5 linked regions of the Homo sapiens genome follow. Changing the gene in region 1 together with any one later gene gives a genetic interaction. Each region holds a gene or a part of one and is shown on either strand. Other genes may lie near its edges.

What was found.
Region 2: changes in RAD1 (region 1) and EGFR together harm fitness more than expected from each alone (negative genetic interaction), as found in Homo sapiens cells (one large-scale study listed by BioGRID).
Region 3: changes in RAD1 (region 1) and ATR are lethal when combined (synthetic lethality), as found in Homo sapiens cells (one large-scale study listed by BioGRID).
Region 4: changes in RAD1 (region 1) and KRAS are lethal when combined (synthetic lethality), as found in Homo sapiens cells (2 studies listed by BioGRID, with this or other methods).
Region 5: changes in RAD1 (region 1) and RIT1 together harm fitness more than expected from each alone (negative genetic interaction), as found in Homo sapiens cells (one large-scale study listed by BioGRID).

What each region holds. Positions count from the first base shown.
Region 1 is NC_000005.10:34,905,502-34,909,026, reverse strand, and holds part of RAD1 (cell cycle checkpoint protein RAD1), read left to right. Parts: intron 1-78; coding exon 79-262; 3' UTR 263-3,432; coding exon of another isoform or gene 3,433-3,496; 3' UTR 3,497-3,525. UniProt on the Homo sapiens protein: Component of the 9-1-1 cell-cycle checkpoint response complex that plays a major role in DNA repair. The 9-1-1 complex is recruited to DNA lesion upon damage by the RAD17-replication factor C (RFC) clamp loader complex.
Region 2 is NC_000007.14:55,197,008-55,200,532, forward strand, and holds part of EGFR (epidermal growth factor receptor isoform a precursor), read left to right. Parts: intron 1-1,709; coding exon 1,710-1,856; intron 1,857-3,308; coding exon 3,309-3,406; intron 3,407-3,525. UniProt on the Homo sapiens protein: Receptor tyrosine kinase binding ligands of the EGF family and activating several signaling cascades to convert extracellular cues into appropriate cellular responses.
Region 3 is NC_000003.12:142,561,709-142,565,233, forward strand, and holds part of ATR (serine/threonine-protein kinase ATR), read right to left. Parts: intron 1,402-3,525; coding exon 524-1,401; intron 1-523. UniProt on the Homo sapiens protein: Serine/threonine protein kinase which activates checkpoint signaling upon genotoxic stresses such as ionizing radiation (IR), ultraviolet light (UV), or DNA replication stalling, thereby acting as a DNA damage sensor.
Region 4 is NC_000012.12:25,230,411-25,233,935, reverse strand, and holds part of KRAS (GTPase KRas), read left to right. Parts: intron 1-3,525. UniProt on the Homo sapiens protein: Ras proteins bind GDP/GTP and possess intrinsic GTPase activity. Plays an important role in the regulation of cell proliferation.
Region 5 is NC_000001.11:155,904,850-155,908,349, reverse strand, and holds part of RIT1 (GTP-binding protein Rit1), read left to right. Parts: intron 1-3,500.

The sequences.
Region 1 (3,525 bases):
ACTTTTTATCCTTTACTTGGGAGTTCTGAGCAGTGTTCACTGTGTTGATATAACAGCGTTTTATTTTTTCTTCTACAGATACAAGATTTCCTTACTGAAACCCTCTACAAAGGCATTAGTCCTATCTTGTAAGGTATCTATTCGGACAGATAACAGAGGCTTCCTTTCATTACAGTATATGATTAGAAATGAAGATGGACAAATATGTTTTGTGGAATATTACTGCTGCCCTGATGAAGAAGTTCCTGAATCTGAGTCTTGAGTATGACAATTCACTGATATTTATGTGTACATTTATGATAGATGAAGTTCTTATTCTGAGTACAGTACTCTTTGTCATTTCATATTGGATTTTCTATAGAGAAGAAGCACAATGGGGAAGATAGGAGCAAGGTCATGTACCCTAATAGTTACTATGTTTTGTAAATCCATTTTGTAGAGGGCATGTAAATAAATGTTTTCCTGTAGTCATAGATTATTCAGGACTGTCCTTTAGTTCTGTCTTTTGAACTCATGGGAATAATTGTGAGTCAGCGTAACATTTCAAGAGTCTAAAGGTGGCCGGGTGTGGTGGCTTTAATCCCAGCACTTTGGGAAGCCGAGGTGGGCGGATCACCTGAGGTCAGGAGTTCGAGACCAGCCTGACCAACGTGGAGAAACCCCATCTCTACTAAAAATACAAAAAATTAGCCGGACGTGGTGGCACATGCCTGTAATGCCAGCTACTCGGGAGGCTGAGGCAGGAGAATTGCTTGAACCCGGGAGGCGGAGGTTGTGGTGAGCTGAGATGACGCCATTGCACTCCAGCCTAGGCAATAAGAGCAAAACTCTGCCTCAAAAAAAAAAAAAAAAAAAGTCTAAAGGCTTAAAGTTTGATGCAGCTACCTGAAATGATCTTTTATTTATTTATTATTAGAAAAAGCAAAGGCATATGGGCATTGCTTATTAGTTTGAATTCTAGAGACTAGATCTTAAAGTAGTGGTTCTCAAAGTGTTGTGCCCGCACCAACATCAGAATGGCCTGCAAACTTGTAGCAAACTCTGGGGAGGAGGCCAGCATTCTGTATTTTAACAAGCTTCCCTCAGGAGATTCTGATGCCTGCTAAATTTTGGGAACCACTGTTTTAAAGGAAACTTTTTTTTTCTTTAATAGCATTTAATTGTATGAGATGATTGCTTTTACATGTGATTTCCTTGCAAATGTTCTGAAGTTGAGGCATCACCAAACAAGTCTGAACAATTCTTTATGTGATTTATTTTTAAAGTAGACCTTTTGAAGAGATCTATGAATGGGATATAAAGCAATTTTCAGTGTTACAGGTTTTCTTCTTCTTCTCAAAACTGTTTGCTGTAAGTAACTGCAATCAGTACTTACTACTTTCCATTTGCTTATGAGTTTCTTGACAAATCAAGGTGTAGAAAACCAGTTATTAAGTGATTTTGTACTTTCCTGGTAGTTGTCACTAAAATAATTTTTGTGGCATATAAATATATTTAATAAAATGCAAAAATTATCTTCCTGTCTAGTAGAAAAAATTACATGAGTAAAGTGAAGCTTCTGTCTTTGTTACTGTACCAGGTGACAACAGCTGAGTGTCCCTCCATGGACAGTCACTATTGGCCTTTTGAGTGAGACAGTTCTTTAGGATAAAAACCTGTCATCCCATTGCAGGATTCATTTAGCCTTTCTGGCCCTTACCCACTGATGCTAGTCATTGTGACCACCCCACCTCCCCCAAATAAAAGTGTGCCAAACTATTCATTGTTGAGAACCATTCAATTGTATTCACCAAAATTGGAGGATATATTGGAATGCCCTACCTTAATATAGGTCACATAGCATTAGAGAAAATTGGTTTGGAGAGTATTACAGCAAAGTGTGCTGCAAGGAGGCTACTCCAGCACAATGGCAGGCACTGCTTCCCAGGCATATGGACAATTCTGGGAGGTGGCCAGGGTCAGCACCTGATAACTAGTAAGTGTCTCAATCTCAGCATACAAAATTTAGCAGTGACTACAAAAGAAGTTGGAATTTTCTAAAATGTTTGTATTCAAGAAGGAAACAAATGAATTTACTAAATGTTGTCAGAGTATTTTTTGTTTAGATAACCACCAAGAACAGAACAAACCTAAAAGATACTTGGGAAAATATCTAATCAGTCAACATTCTAAGGACTGTTAAATGTGAAATAGCATAGTTATTTTTTGTCTTTTGTTACTAGTGTGAACAAAGAACGGCGCCTAACATATAATGGGCATTTAGTAACTCTGTTAGATGAAAGACTCTCCAATTTCAGATTTTCTTTTAGCATCTTATTAGTCACTACTTAATTCTGATGATTTAGCTCTAAATTTATTTTGATCTCAGTTTTTTTATTTTTATTTTTGGAGACAAGATCTTGCTCTGTTGCCCAGGCTGGAGTACAGTTGTAGGATTACAGTTCACTCCAGCCTCAATCTCCTAGGCTCAAGCAATCCTCCCATCTCAGCTTCCCAAATAGCTACGACTACAGGTGCATGCCTCCATGCCCTGCTAATTTTTGTATTTTTTGTAGAGATGGGGTTTTACTATGTTCCCTAGGCTAATCTTGAACTCCTGAGCTCAAGCAATCCACCCGCCTCGGCCTCCCAAAGGGCTGGGATTACAGGCGTGAGCTATCATGCCTGGCCTAATGTATTTTTTAAAAGTTGAATCTAAAAAGAATTTAAAACAAATATAAATCAGCTCAGTAAGGATGGATATTTTTGTACATTTAAAACTATTATTTTAGGCCGGGAGTGGTGGCTCACACCTGTAATCCCAGCATTTTGGGAAGCCGAGGCAGGGGGATCATCTGAGGTCAGGAAGTTCGAGATCAGCCTGGCCAACATGGTGAAACCCCTACCTCTACTAAAAATACAAAAATTAGCTGGGTGTGGTGGTGGGTGTCTGTAATCCCAGCTACTTGAGAGGCTGAGGCAAGAGAATCACTTGAAACTGGAAGGCGGGGGTTGCAGTGAGCCGAGATTGCACCATTGCACTCCAGCCTGGGTGACAGAGCAAGACTCCGTCTCAAAAACAAAAAAAATTAAAATAAAAATTATTGTTTTAGCTGCATGTCTTCAGCTATTTAGAATTCAAAGACTAATGAATTGTTTCTAAGTCACCCTAACATCAAGGTACTTATTTTATAAAGAATTTCCTCCTTATTTGTGTTCTAATTGACCCAGGAATTTTTACTTTAATAAAAGTTTAACTTTATTTCCTATGGAAAATCACTAGGGGGAGTGCTCCCTCAGGCAGAGCAGGCGACACTTTGGTGCCACTACAAATTGATGTGTAGTATATAGAAGAATACAGTCTTATATTTAAAGACTTTTAGTTCTGTCTTTTTGAAGTTTATCTCTCTTTCTAGTAAAATGGTGCTTACTGTGAATGGATAATCTTTTTTTTCATTTTTCATTTGTTGATTTCCCATTCGATGATGTAGTGCTTCCACCGAGAATTGATGAAATGCTTCAAAATAATAAAAGTATTTGTTAAAT
Region 2 (3,525 bases), on another chromosome or scaffold:
ATGTGAATTTTTAAATTGTATTTTCTAGTTCTGTGAAGAATCTCATTGGTAGTGTGATAGGAGTAACATTGAATCTATAAAATACTTTGGGCAGTATAGTCATTTTAATGATATTGATTCTTTCTATCCATGAGCATGGAATGTTTTTCCATTTGTTTGTGTCATCTCTGATTTCTTTAAGCAGTGTTTTGTGGTTCTTATTGTAGAGATCTTTCACTTTCCTGGTTTACTGTATTTCTAGGTATTTTATTCTTTTTGTGGCAATTGTGAATTGAATTGCATTCCTGATTTGGTTCTCAGCTTGACTGTTGTTGGCATATTGGAATGCTAATTATTTTTGTACATTGATTTTGTACAACTGAGTCTTCACTGAAGTTGTTTATCAGCTTAAGGGGTTTTGGGTCAAGACTATGGGGTTTTCTAGATATAGGATCATGTCATCTGCAAACAGAGATAGCTGTTTTCCTCTCTTCCTGTTTGGATGTCCATTATTTCTTTCTCTCACCTGATTTATCTGGCCAGGACTTCCAATACTATGTTAAATAGGAGTGTTGAGAGAGGGAATCCTTGTCTTGTGTCAATTTTCAAGGGGAATGTTTTCAACTTTTGCCCATTCAATATGATGTTGGCTGTGGGTTTGCCATAGATGGCTAATATGTTGAGGTTTGTTCTTTAAATACCTAGTTTATTGAGAATTTTAAACATGTTGAATTTTATTGAGAGCCTTTTCTGCATCTATTGAGATGATCATGTGGCTTTTGTCCTTAGTTCTGTTTGTGTGGTGAATCACATTTATTGATTTGCATATGTTGAACCAATCTTGCATCCCAGGGATGAAGCCGACTTGATTGTGGTGGCTTAAGCTTTTTGATGTGCTGCTGGATTCGATTTGCCAGTATTTTGTTGAGGATTTTTATGTCTATGTTCATCAGAGATATTGGCCTGAAGTTTTCTTTTTTTGTTGTATCTCTGCCAAGCTTTGGTATCAGGATGACATTGGCCTCATAGAATGAGTTAAGGAAGAGTCCCTCCTTCTCAATTTTTTTGGAATAGTTTCAGTAGGAATGGTACCAGCTTTTTTTGTACATCTTGTAGAATTTGGCTATGAATCCATCTAGTCTTAGGCTTTGTTTTGGTTGGTAGGCTATTTATTACTGATTCAATTTTGGAGCTCATTATTGGTCTGTTCAGGGATTCAGTTTCTTCCTGAGGTTTTTATTTTTATCAAATGGAACTTAAGCTTTTTCATTTCCAATTTTTTTATGATCTAAAAATGTGCAGTTTACAGCCCTGTTCAGAATCTGCATCTTCCTCATTCTGCAGATACAGGTCCCTCAGAGCAGGTGACTGAGTGTGTATCCTGTCTGGAGCATAATACTTATGCTAGTAGAGTTACTGTTGTCTTTATTGTTAATTACCAAAGTTTACCACTTATCAGTCACTTACTACTTGCTGGGCATTGCACTAAGCATTTCAGTTGTATTATCTTGTTGGGTCCTTACAGCAATCCTGTGAAACAGATACTGCTATTACCCCACTTTATAGAGAGGTAGACTGAGGCTTCCAGCATTGAAGCAAATTGCCCAAGACTACAGAAATGTAGGTTTCTAAACATCAAGAAACAGTAACCAGTAATGATGACTAAAGCAAGGGATTGTGATTGTTCATTCATGATCCCACTGCCTTCTTTTCTTGCTTCATCCTCTCAGGGGTGACTGTTTGGGAGTTGATGACCTTTGGATCCAAGCCATATGACGGAATCCCTGCCAGCGAGATCTCCTCCATCCTGGAGAAAGGAGAACGCCTCCCTCAGCCACCCATATGTACCATCGATGTCTACATGATCATGGTCAAGTGTGAGTGACTGGTGGGTCTGTCCACACTGCCTAGCTGAGCCTTGGTGGCTGCTCTTAGCCAAACAGCTGAGGCCTTTGCATCCCTGGAGAAATGTCATCACATTACTTAAGGCAGGCACACAAATCCAGAAACATCTGTAAATACCCCTTCAAGCATTCTTTTAAAGACACTTCTTGACTCATTGGGCAGTATGACCTGACATTTGCCCATGTTTGCAAGCAAATAAATAAAACTAAAGTCTTCCGCAAGCCATTACACCAAAATATTCTATTCGCTGAGTTACTCAATGAAATACCGAGTTGCCCTATATTTTGAAGCCTGTTACCAGAGAGACTGAATGTTTTTAAATGCATGGCAGTGAGTAACAACATAAGGCTAATAGAGTCAACATTTCTGCTTTGACTTAAACCTTTTAAACCAGTGGATTTATGTGAAGTCTCTGCAGTGTGGCATTTAAACATTTCAATCTAAATAAGAGTGTGTAATTTGATTGATGCTATTATTCTACCAGATTCACGAGTGCAGTGGGCTCTGGAGGTAGCATTACATGCATGGGATGAGCATTTGCAAAAGAAAGTTGTATAGGGAATATGACAGAGCCAAGTTAATGTAAATATTAATGCCTTTCTGAACTCTAGGCCACAGAGTTGATCTTTTTTAACTTCCTTGGTTTGGGCTAAGGAAGCTGTGATCCAGAGAAGCCACGTGATTTGTCTAAGGTCACATAGCAGTCTGGCCTAAAATAGCTTGATATGCTGTGGATGGAAAATAAATGTGATCCCTCAAGAGGCATGAGGATTTCCAGGCAGTAGCCATACCTCCAAATTGTTTAATCTGGATTTAGATTGTTGGGTAGTCACATGCAGCAGCACAGTTAACAGTGTGTCCTCCTGTGGAAGTTGCCAGCACAGCCAGCCCTCTCACTTGCATGCATGCCCACCAGCCTTCTCACTTGCATGCATGCCCACTGGGTATGTGCTGTACTGGAGACGCCGGGGGTAGGGGCCCAGTCCCAACCCCAAATTCTTTAAAGCCTATTTTTCTAAGTTGCATCTGGTTTCCTACCTGAAGGAATGCTAAGGGTGGATGTTGAGTGAGGACCTTGGTGCAGGGCACCCTGCAGTCAGGATAGTTCATGGAGAGCAATTGTACAGACCCACACTGCTCCATCCCCTCAGGCGTAACACAGGATGCTGACCCCAGGAAGAGTGGGCGTAGAAAAACTAGAGGGCATTATTGTTATTCTGATTCAAATGTACAGTGCTGGCATGGTCTTTAAACAGTAACCAGTACTAGCTGGCCAAGACAGAAAAGTCTACCACAAAGACTTGGTTCTTTCATCACTTATTTGACTGGAAGTGTCGCATCACCAATGCCTTCTTTAAGCAATGCCATCTTTATCATTTCTTCCAGTGTTCTAATTGCACTGTTTTTTCTCATTCCTTCCCCAGGCTGGATGATAGACGCAGATAGTCGCCCAAAGTTCCGTGAGTTGATCATCGAATTCTCCAAAATGGCCCGAGACCCCCAGCGCTACCTTGTCATTCAGGTACAAATTGCAGTCTGTGCTTCCATTGGGAAGAGTCCCTCTAATGAGCATCTCATGTCACTGTGTTCTGTCACATGCCAGCCTGGCCTCCCTGTGTCCCAGATCGCATTATTAAACCC
Region 3 (3,525 bases), on another chromosome or scaffold:
ATTACCAACTTTCTTCATGTAACTTTAATCCAGCAAGATTAATAAACTAAAATATTTAATCAAGTTACTGCATCTCTGATGATTTTATTGTATTACCTGACTCCCACAGTCCAAATAGAAAAAAGCGCATAATTTGGCATGATTAATCATTCATAGGTTTTCTAAAAGTGATTGATTATAACTTGTCAGACACATAATCTGATTGACCAAAGCTTCTGCAATTAAGTTGGTAACTGCCCCCTTTTAATTAATAATGCAACAAATACATTTACACTTCACAGATTCTACTTAGAAACATTCTACTCCATTGGCAGTTCATTACCAACTTAATGAACAAATCCTTCTGAAATCAAAGTAAAAGTCCATAATAGTGAGCCAGACTACACTATGAAAATCATTATGTTCCAAATATAAATTACTATTAAAGATATTCTATTTTCTTATTATTACATTTTGCACATATGTATACAATTAAATGATGAACAAAATACATACTTAACTAGTAACCTGAAAAATTACTTACCTCTGCATCTACCTCAATTCCAAGCACATCCAAAAGAGCTTTACAAATATTTCTCACATAGACCTTCCTGACTTGTAAAGCAGATTCATACCCAGCTGGCACAAATTTAAGGAAATACTGCAGTAAATGGCACAAAGCTGCTTTTAGCAAATCAGACTTAAGCCGCATGAGCACACCGTCTTCAAACATGACACAGAGTTTTTCCAGCAGCATATTTAAATAGACAGGTTCAATATTTCTATAAGCTTCTGCTTCAAAGGGAAATAGTGTCTTTATCAGCTTTGATAATGGCTCTTCATAGAGTTTCAATTGGTCAGTATCCATTTCTACAAGGTGTTTTAATAATTCCAAAAATGAGCTGAAAAAAGTGCTAGCTGGTTGTGCTGGTAGTCCTCCAAGCTGAAAAAGTTCTGTTAAAAAGCTAATTGCTAGGGATTTAATTTTTGGACTACCATACTCTAGCAGAACACAACCTATCTGCCAAAGTAAGAGTTCTTGCCTTCTAAAAAACACAATTGCAATAATACGAGTAAGAACCATTAATAAAGTGACTTCAATAAATTCTAAATTTTGCATACTCATCAACTGCAAAGGAGCTGATTGTAAATATCCCATGTGTTCATCTAATTGACTTAAAAATCGGCTCATGACCACTGGCCATTCCACAGCATGACCCATCACATTTCTTCTATGGAGGTAAACCAAGTCTTCAAAAAGTTGTAATAATTCTTTTGTGAGTACCCCAAAAATAGCAGGACTCTTGCTTTTAAAAAGAAATAATAATGAACAGATGACTTCACAGATTTTCTTGTGTAACAAATGACAGGAGGGAGTTGCTGCAATCCGCAGAAGTCTCGTTATGATCCAATTACTGAATTCTTTGAAATAAACAAAAAAGATATTAAATAAACAAGTATATCCGAAGTGCTAATTCATTTGCTAAATCCTTGACGATTGACTTTTAAAGAATAAACTTCACTAACAAGAGTGTAAAACATTCTCTTCACAATGGAAACATAATAGTTTAGAACACAGGCATACCCAGTTTTATTGCACGTTGCAGATACTGCATTTGTCACAAATTGAAGGTTGTGGTAACTCTGCATCAAGCAAGTGTATCAGTGCCATTTTTCCAATAGCATGTGGTCACTTCATGTCTCTGTATCACATTTTGGTAATTCTCAAAATATTTCAAACATTTTCATTATTATCGTATCTGTTATGGTGATCTGTGATCAGTGACGTTTGATGTTACTATTGTAATTGTTTGGAGCTGTCATGAACCACACCGATATAAGGTGGCAAACTTAATGGATAAATGTATGTGTTCTGACCCACCGACCAGCAGTTCCCCATCTCTCTCCCTCTCCTTGTGTCTCCCTATTCCCTGAGACACAGTATTGAAATTAGGTTAATTAATAACCCTTACAATGGCCTCTATGTGTTCAAATGAAAGGAAGAGTCACACATCTCTCACTTCAAATCAAAAGCTAGAAATGATTAAGCCTACTGAGGAAGGCATGTTGAAAGCCAAGACAAGTTGAAAGCTAGGCCTCTTTCACCAAACAACCAACTTGTTAAAACAAAGAAAAAGTTTTTGGAGGAAATTAAAAGTACTACTCCACTGAACGCACCATTGATGAGAAAGTGAAACAGCCTTATTGCTGGTATGGAGAAAGTTTTTGTACTCTGAATAGAAGATCAAATCGTTAAAAGATGAGGAAATTTCCAGTAGGAAAAAAAGAAGATCAAACCAGCCACAACATTCCCTTAAGCCAAAGCCTAATCCAGAGAAAGGCCCTCAACATCAAGGCAAGACACTCCACCAGCACAAATATTACAACTTGTTGAAGGATGATATAATCGTTAGCATTTTTTAGTAATAAAGTATTTTTAATTAGGGTACATACATTGTTTTTTAGACATAATGCTATTCCACACTTAAGGTACAACGTAAACATAACTTTTATATGCACTGGGAAACCAAAAAATTCATGTGACTTACTTTATTGCAATATTCACTTTATTGTAGTGGTCTGGAACTGAACCCACAATATTTCTGAGGTATGCCTGTAACAACTTTGGAGTCAGACAGGCAAGGTCCTAGCTTTCCACTTACTAGTTGTATAAACTTTTCATTTCTCTGAACCTCTGTAATTTCATGTATAAGGAGAATAATGCTATCTATGTTATGGGTTACTGTGAGGACCAAATAAGAAAATGCACATGAAATACTCAGCACAGTTCCAAAGTAAAATAAATGTTCAATAAAGGGTAGCTATTGTCATTCTTTCAACTAAAATTTGAGTGGTGACTCTGTCTCAGGTACACAAGAATAAATCAGTCATAGTCCTGTCCTCATGAATCTCACAGTACAGTTTCTTGAGCTTTTTGACTGCAACAAAGAAATAACATTTTATATCATGACCCAGTACATATACATGCATTTTATTTAAATATTTAAAACAAAAGGTTCATTAAATAGTACTTACTCTTATTACATACAATGTACTATAATATTTTCTTTTTTTTTTTCTTGAGACAGGTTCTCACTCTGTTACCCAGGCTGGAGTGCAACGGCATGGTCTTAGCTCACTGCAATCTCTGCCTCCCAGGCTAAAGCAATTAGTGTGCCTCAGCCTTCCAAGTAGCTTGTACCACAGGCATGTGCCACCATGTTCAGCTAATGTTTTTCTGTTTTGTTTTGGTTTGGTTTGGTTTGGTTTTGGTAGAGACAGGATTTTGCCATGTTGCCTAGGCTGGTCTCGAACTCCCAAAGTGCTGGGATTACAGGCGTGAGACATCGTGCCCAGCCTATGATATTTTCTAGTTTATTTCATCTTGTTTTAAATGCTGATAATTGCCTAATTTCATAACCCACTAGTGGGTTATGACCTGTAGTTTAAAAACTACTGTAGGAAAGAATATAGACAAACCAATGATTAGAGCACAGTTTAATAGCCTCTATGATAGATGAAATGCAGAACACTTAGTACTAAGAG
Region 4 (3,525 bases), on another chromosome or scaffold:
TTTGAGAAGGATTTGTATTATATAATTGAAAAATCTGTTAAATTGTATTTATGTTAACTGCTTAATTCTAATAAAATTTCCATTCATTTTTTAGTATCTGCATATATTTACATCAAATGGATTCATTCACTTATTTAAGAGGCAGTACTAATTACCTATAGCGTTCAAGACTGTTAGGTAGAGGGTGTGTAGTGGTGAGTACAACAGGCGTGAGCCCTACCAACACGGAGTTTAAAGCCTAGTAGAGGATATAGACTTAAACAATTTCACAAGTAAATACATAATTACAAATTATAATACATGCTATGAAGGAAACATAGGAGGTACCAGAGAAGGAAGAGTGCTTTGCATTTTTATTTTTAAGACCGAAGAGTGCTATTGGAGGACTTTGAGCAAGTGAATGACATGATCTAACCTACCTTCGTTCATTCATTCATTCATTCATTTTCTTCCTTCCTGGCTCAAGCAGTCCTCCCACCTGAGCTCCCCAAATAGCTGGGACTACAGGTACACACTACCACACCTAATTTTTTTTTGTATTTTTTGTATTTTTGATGGGATTTTACCATGTTGGCCAGGCTGGTCTTGAACTCTTGACCTCAGGTGATCCACCTGTCTCGGCCTCCCAAGGTGTTGGGATTATAGGTGCCTAGCCCATGGTGCCTAGCCCTAACCTACATTTATAAACTATCACTTGCTGCTGTGTGGAGACTATATTGTGAGATTAACAGCAGGGATACCTGCTAGGAAGCAATTGCTGCAGATTGCCTGAGACAAAATAGTTATCATGGACTAGGGGGATGGTGGTGGTGGTGGTGGTAGGTGGTTGGATGTAGGATATATTTTGAAGATAGGTAAATGGTGCAAGATTATGGGTCAGTTTTAAATGCTTAAGTAAATTTTCTTTGTAAGACATTTTAGGATGCCATGTTAAGAATCTCTTTATAACTGTCATTTAAAAAAAAACCACATATTTTCTTAGCATAATTTCCCATAGTAACATTACTATGTCAAAGGCTATGAACATTTGAATGACTTTAGATAAATACTGTAATTGCTTTCCAAAAATATTGTGCTTATTATGTCACCAGAAATGTTTGAATTCTGTCTACAATTCAGTCTTGCCAGTATAGTACATTTCATTTAGAAAAATTTTTTACTATGTAGATGGAAAAAATAATATTTTAGCTGGGAGTGGGGGGACTATGGGGAATAACTTTCCTTCATTTAATATTTTATTGTGAGTTAGTTTAAGTTACTTTATTTTATCGTAGTTTCCTAAGGCTACAAATTAGTAACCTTGGTAACTTATGTACCTAATTTAAAAGTTTACTTTTTTGAAAGGCTGGAAATACTAATTAAAAACGTAACACCTTCATCCTTGTCTTTGCTCCATTATTAACTAGTTTCATTACAGAATCTCTGTGTTTTAAAATCAGATGGGTTTTCATAACCAGTACTTTCTCAGAGTGGTAAATTTAAAAAAATATATAAAGAGAATAAATAATATTTGTTGAGAATACTTCAAATAATGTGAAGAGTTATTAACTTACAGCAGGAGTTGGCAAACTTTTCTATAAAGGGCCATATGGGTCTTTGTCACAAAGTCTTGGGTTTTTGTTTTTGTTTTTTTAAACAGCTATTTAACTATTCCTAGCTAATGGGCAATACAAAAACAGTGGGCAAGATTTGGCCTGTGGGCAGTAGCTTGCTGAAACCTTATTTAGACTCTAAATTTTTTGAAAGAGTCTACATTGATGCATATTTTTTTTTCTTCCTCCAAATACAGTTGACCCTTGAACAACATGCGTTTGAGTGACCATGGGTCCACTTGTGATACACGTTTTTTTCCCAACCAAATGCAGATATGGAGGGCTGACTTTTCATATACCTGGATGTTCCTGGGCCAACTGTAGGACTAGAGGCTGGGGGGGTCTTGGAACCAATGCCGTGTGTATACCAGGGATGACTGTTTCTTATGGCCTGACCTGAAGTTGGAACAGAATCTTTATTAATATATAATTTTTGTTGCGTTTGTTTTCTCTTTATATTTATCCATTCTTTTTAGATCGTATTTCATTTAACACTTTTTCTTCTTTAGTTTTTACCAAGTTGCACTGAAAATAGCTCAGTGACTAATTGCACTTCTAAGAGTGAGGACCCTAGTTAAAATTAACTCTAAAAATACTGAATTTTTAACCTAAACCTTTTATTTCTAATCAACAGTATTATTTATGAGTAGGTTATAGATTACTTTGAAACGGAATGTGTCTCAGAACTTTGCTATCGATATTTTTAAGGTCTGGTAGGGAAAAGATAATAGGAATGAGATTTATCAGTGAATAGGGGACTGCTTTCCCAGTTTCTCGGTCGCACTGGTGTATTCACCATGGAAGCATCTTATGAAATATGTACATAAACTACTAATATCCCACATTACAGGTTGACTATTCTTTATCTGAAATGCTTAGGACCTAGAAGTATTTTTGGATTTTGGTTTTTCAGAGTAGGGATACTCAGCCTACATTGGTAAGTAAAGAATGTGAGGTGACAGGCTGGGCGCGATGGTTGACGCCTGTAATCCCAGCACTTTGGGAGGCCGAGGCGGATCACCTGAGGTCAGGAGTTGAAGACCAGCCTGGCCAATCTGTACTAAAAATACAAAAATTAGCTGGACACAGTGGCACGTGCCAGTAGTCCCAGCTACTCAGGAGGCTGAGGTAGGAGAATCGCTTGAACCTGGGAGGCGGAGGTTGCAGTGACTCGAGATCGTGTCACTGCCCTCCAGCCTAGGCAACAGAGCAAGACTCCATCTCAAAAAAAAAAAAAAAAAAAAAAAAAAAGAATGTGAGGTGGCAGCAATAGGTAGGAAGAGTCTTTGGTCAGCTTTACATGCTCTGTAGCCATGCCTGGGTAATGGGTTGACTCTAAGACTCTGTGCTTTGCTCCCACCTCCTGCTTTTTCATTACTCTTTAGAATGGTTTTTAATTTGTGATCTATAGGAGTTCTTTCAAGTATTTAATAAGAGAATAGGCTAAATTAAGTAAATGTCAACTGAATGCTCAAATCTCTACTAAAGAGCCTCTTATTTAGAAAATAAATATCCATCTTTTTTTTCTGACTGGTGAGATAATTAATTTTTATTACAGATGGTTTGGAAAATACCATATGCTTTAAAAGATAAGCACAAAATTATAGTCTAATATGTAGGTTTTCATACTTTAAAAAATTGAAAACCAAAGAAAAACATTTAACATAGCATCTAGTACAAAGAAAAGAGATAAGCAAGAGATAAATGTCTTTTTTGGGACAGAGTTTTGCTGTTGTTGCCCAGGCTGGAGTGCAATGGCACAATCTCAGCTCACCGTAACCTCCACCTCCCGGGTTCAAGTGATTCTCCTGCCTCAGCCTCCCGAGTAGCTGGGATTACAGTCATGCACCACCAGGCCCAGGTAATTTTGTATGTTTAGTAGAGATGGGGTTTCTCCGTGTTGGTCAGGCTGATCTCAAACTCCCGACCTCAG
Region 5 (3,500 bases), on another chromosome or scaffold:
CTGAGTAGCTGGGACTACAGGGGCCCATCACCACGCCCGGCTAATTTTTTGTACCTTTAGTAGAGACAGGGTTTCACTGTGTTAGCCAGGATGGTCTCGATCTCCTGACCTCGTGATCTGTCTGCCTTGGCCTCCCAAAGTGCTGGGATTACAGGCGTGAGCCACCGTGCCCGGCCGCGTCTTTCCCTTTCTTTAAAGTAAAACTCAAATACTCGTCTCCTGTAAGAGTTATCTGTATTTTTTTTTTTGTTTTTTTTTTTTAGATGGAGTCTCACTGTCGCCCAGGCTAGAGTGCAGTGGCATGATCTCGGCTCACTGCAGGCTCCGCCCCCCCGGGGTTCATGCCATTCTCCTGCCTCAGGCTCCAGCGTAGCTGGGACTACAGGCACCCGCCACCTCGCCTGGCTAATTTTTTGTATTTTTAGTAGAGACGGGGTTTCACCGTGTTAGCCAGGATGGTCTCGATCTCCTGACCTTGTGATCCGTCCGCCTCGGCCTCCCAAAGTGCTGGGATTACAGGCGTGAGCCACCGCATCCGGCCAAGTTATCTGTTTTAATCAATTTTCCTCCAGTTAACTACTCTCCTGGCAATATTATCTGATTCAACAGCAAATACTTATGTCTTCTGAGTTTCTATTATGTGCCAAGCACTGCTTACCCTCAGGGTACAGTGGTGATCAAAAAGATGAGGTTTCTGTTCTTGAGTTTCTAATTTAGTGCATTTGATTTCAAGCTCTGGCTGTAAACTCAGAAAAACTTTACATTGTAACTGGTAGAGATATAAAAGCATACAAGGCCGGGTGCGGAGGCTTACGCCTGTAATCCTGAGCCTGCAATCCTGTAATCGAAGCACTTTAGGAGGCCAAGGCACCTGAGGTCAGGAGTTCAAGACCAGCCTGGCCAACATGGTAAAACCCCATCTCTACTGAAAATACAAAAATTAGCTGGGCGTGTTACTGCTGCATGCCTGTAATCCCAGCTACTCAGGAAGCTGAGGTGGGAGAATTCCTTGAACCCAGAAGGCAGAGGTTGCAGTGAGCCGAGATTGCACCACTGCACTCCGCCCTGAGCGACAGAGTGAGACTTTGCCTCAAAAAAAAAAAAAAAAAGCATATGAATGTGTGCATATGTATATATAAATTATATACACAAGCGCATGTGTATGTGTAGCTAAAATATTATGAAACTTTACCTCACTACATCTGGTGCACTCTGATATTTTCTTTTCTTTTCTTTTTTTTTGAGACAGGGTCTCACTCTGTTGCCCATGCTGGAGTGCAGTGTTGTGATCTTGGCTCACTGCAGCCTGGACCTCCTGGGTTCAGGTGATCCTCCCGCCTCACCCTACCAAATACCTGGGACTGCAGGCGTAGGCCACTAAGCCCAGCTAATATTTTTGGATTTTTAGTAGAGATGAGGTCTCGCTCTATTGCCCAGGCTGGTCTCAAACTCCTGAGCGCAAGTGATCCTCCCACCTGGACCTCCCAAAGCACTGAGATTACAGGCGTGAGAGCCACTGTACCTCACCCACTCTGGTATTTTCTTTCTTTTTTTTTCTTTTTTTCTTTTTTTTTTTTTTTTTTTTTTGAGACGGAGAATTTCACTCCTGTTGCCCAGGCTAGAGTCCAGTGGCACAATCTTGGCTCACTGCAACCTCCACCTCCCAGTTCAAGCGATTCTCCTGCCTCAGCCTCCCAAGTAGCTGGGATTACAGGCGCCTGTGACCACATCCAGATAATTTTTGTATTTTTAGTAGAGATGGGGTTTCACCACATTAGCCAGGCTGGTCTTGAACTCCTGACCTCAGGTGATCCACCCGCCTCAGCCTCCCAAAGTGCTGGGATTACAGGCATGAACCACTGTGCCTGGCCTGGTATTTTCTATTTTTATTTAGGTTTCTGCTTGTTTATTTTAATGCTGGTCCCGGCCCATTAAGTAGATTTCACAACTCACTAATCCTAATGAATAATTGAGAAGCATTGATTTAATGAGCTCTTCATCTTTGAGGAAGAGACAGAAGCAGGAATTCAAGAAAAAATGTTAAAAGGAAATACATTGAGATGTAAGCAGCAGTTGTTAAGTGAATGAAATATTGCGTGGCTTTTTTTTTCTTTTTAGTTTTCTATATTTTCCAAGGTTACTATAGTAATATGCATAAAGAAATTTGCTTTCAGAAAAGAGAAATTACGAAACTGTGGATTATTTAGAAAATAGTCAGTTAGACCGGGTGCAGTGGCTCACGCCTGTAATCCCAACACTTTGGGAGGCTGAGGCAGGTGGATCATTTGAGGTCAGGCGTTCAAGACCAGCCTGGCCAACATGGTGAAACCCTGTCTATACTAAAAATACAAAAATTAGCCGGGCAATAGTGGCATGTGCCTGTAATCCCAGCTACTCAGGAGGCTGAGGCAGGAGAATCCCTTGAGCCTGGGAGGCAGAAGTTGTGGTGAGCCGAGATCATGCCACTGCACTCCAGTCTGGGTGATAGAGTGAGAGCCTGTCTCAAAAAAAAAAAAAATAGTGAATTATATATTTTTTTCCTTTTTTGTAGTATTGAGGAGGAAGTATAACACATGGTTAATAATGCTTTTCAGTTCAGCAATCTTGGATTTTAATCCTCATTCTGTCACTAATTAACTAATTTAGAGAAGACATTAATATTTTCAAGTTGAATTTTCTTTAGCTGTAAAATGGAGGTAATAATGCCTACTTCATTGGATTATTGTGATTATTGAAGAATTAATATATATAAGTTACTTAGTATAATGTCTGGTAGATAATAACAATTTAATAAATGGTAAAGTTACTTTTCAGGCCTAATTTTTTTTTTCCCCTAAGAGATGGGGTCTCGGCTGAGTGCAGTGGCCCACACCTGTAATACCAGCACTTTGGGAGGCCAAGGCAGGAGGATTGTTTCAACCCAGGAGTTCGAGACTAGCCTGGACAACATTGCAAAATCCTATGTCTACCAAAAATACAAAAAAATTAGCCAGACATGGTGGTAGCACGCCTGTAGTTCCAGCTACTTGGGAGGCCAAGGTGGGAGAATCACTGGAGCCTGGGAAGTCAAGGCTACAGTGAACCGAAATTGCACCACTGCACTCCAGCCTGGGTGACAGTGAGACCCTGTCTCAAGAAAAAAAAAAAAAGATGAGCTGTTGCTGTGTTGCCCAGGCTGGTCTTGAACTCCTGGGCTCAAACAATACTCCTGTCTCAGTCTCCCAAGTAGCTGGGATTATAGGCAGTCACCACTGTGCCCAGATAGCCTAATTTTTTTAAGAAAGACATCTTCTCAGAATCCTTTTTTAGCTTAGAATTGTAGGTGAAATCTTCAGCTGTGAATAAACTACATCATCACCTATGTGGAAAAAAAAACTTCAGTTGAAGACTCAGTTTATGTATCTCAGTGGATTTAGCATGCTTCCTGAGAAAATGTGGGCATTTAATGAATTTGGATACAATGTACTACTCTGTAAGATGAGTTTTAAATAGGCATTTCT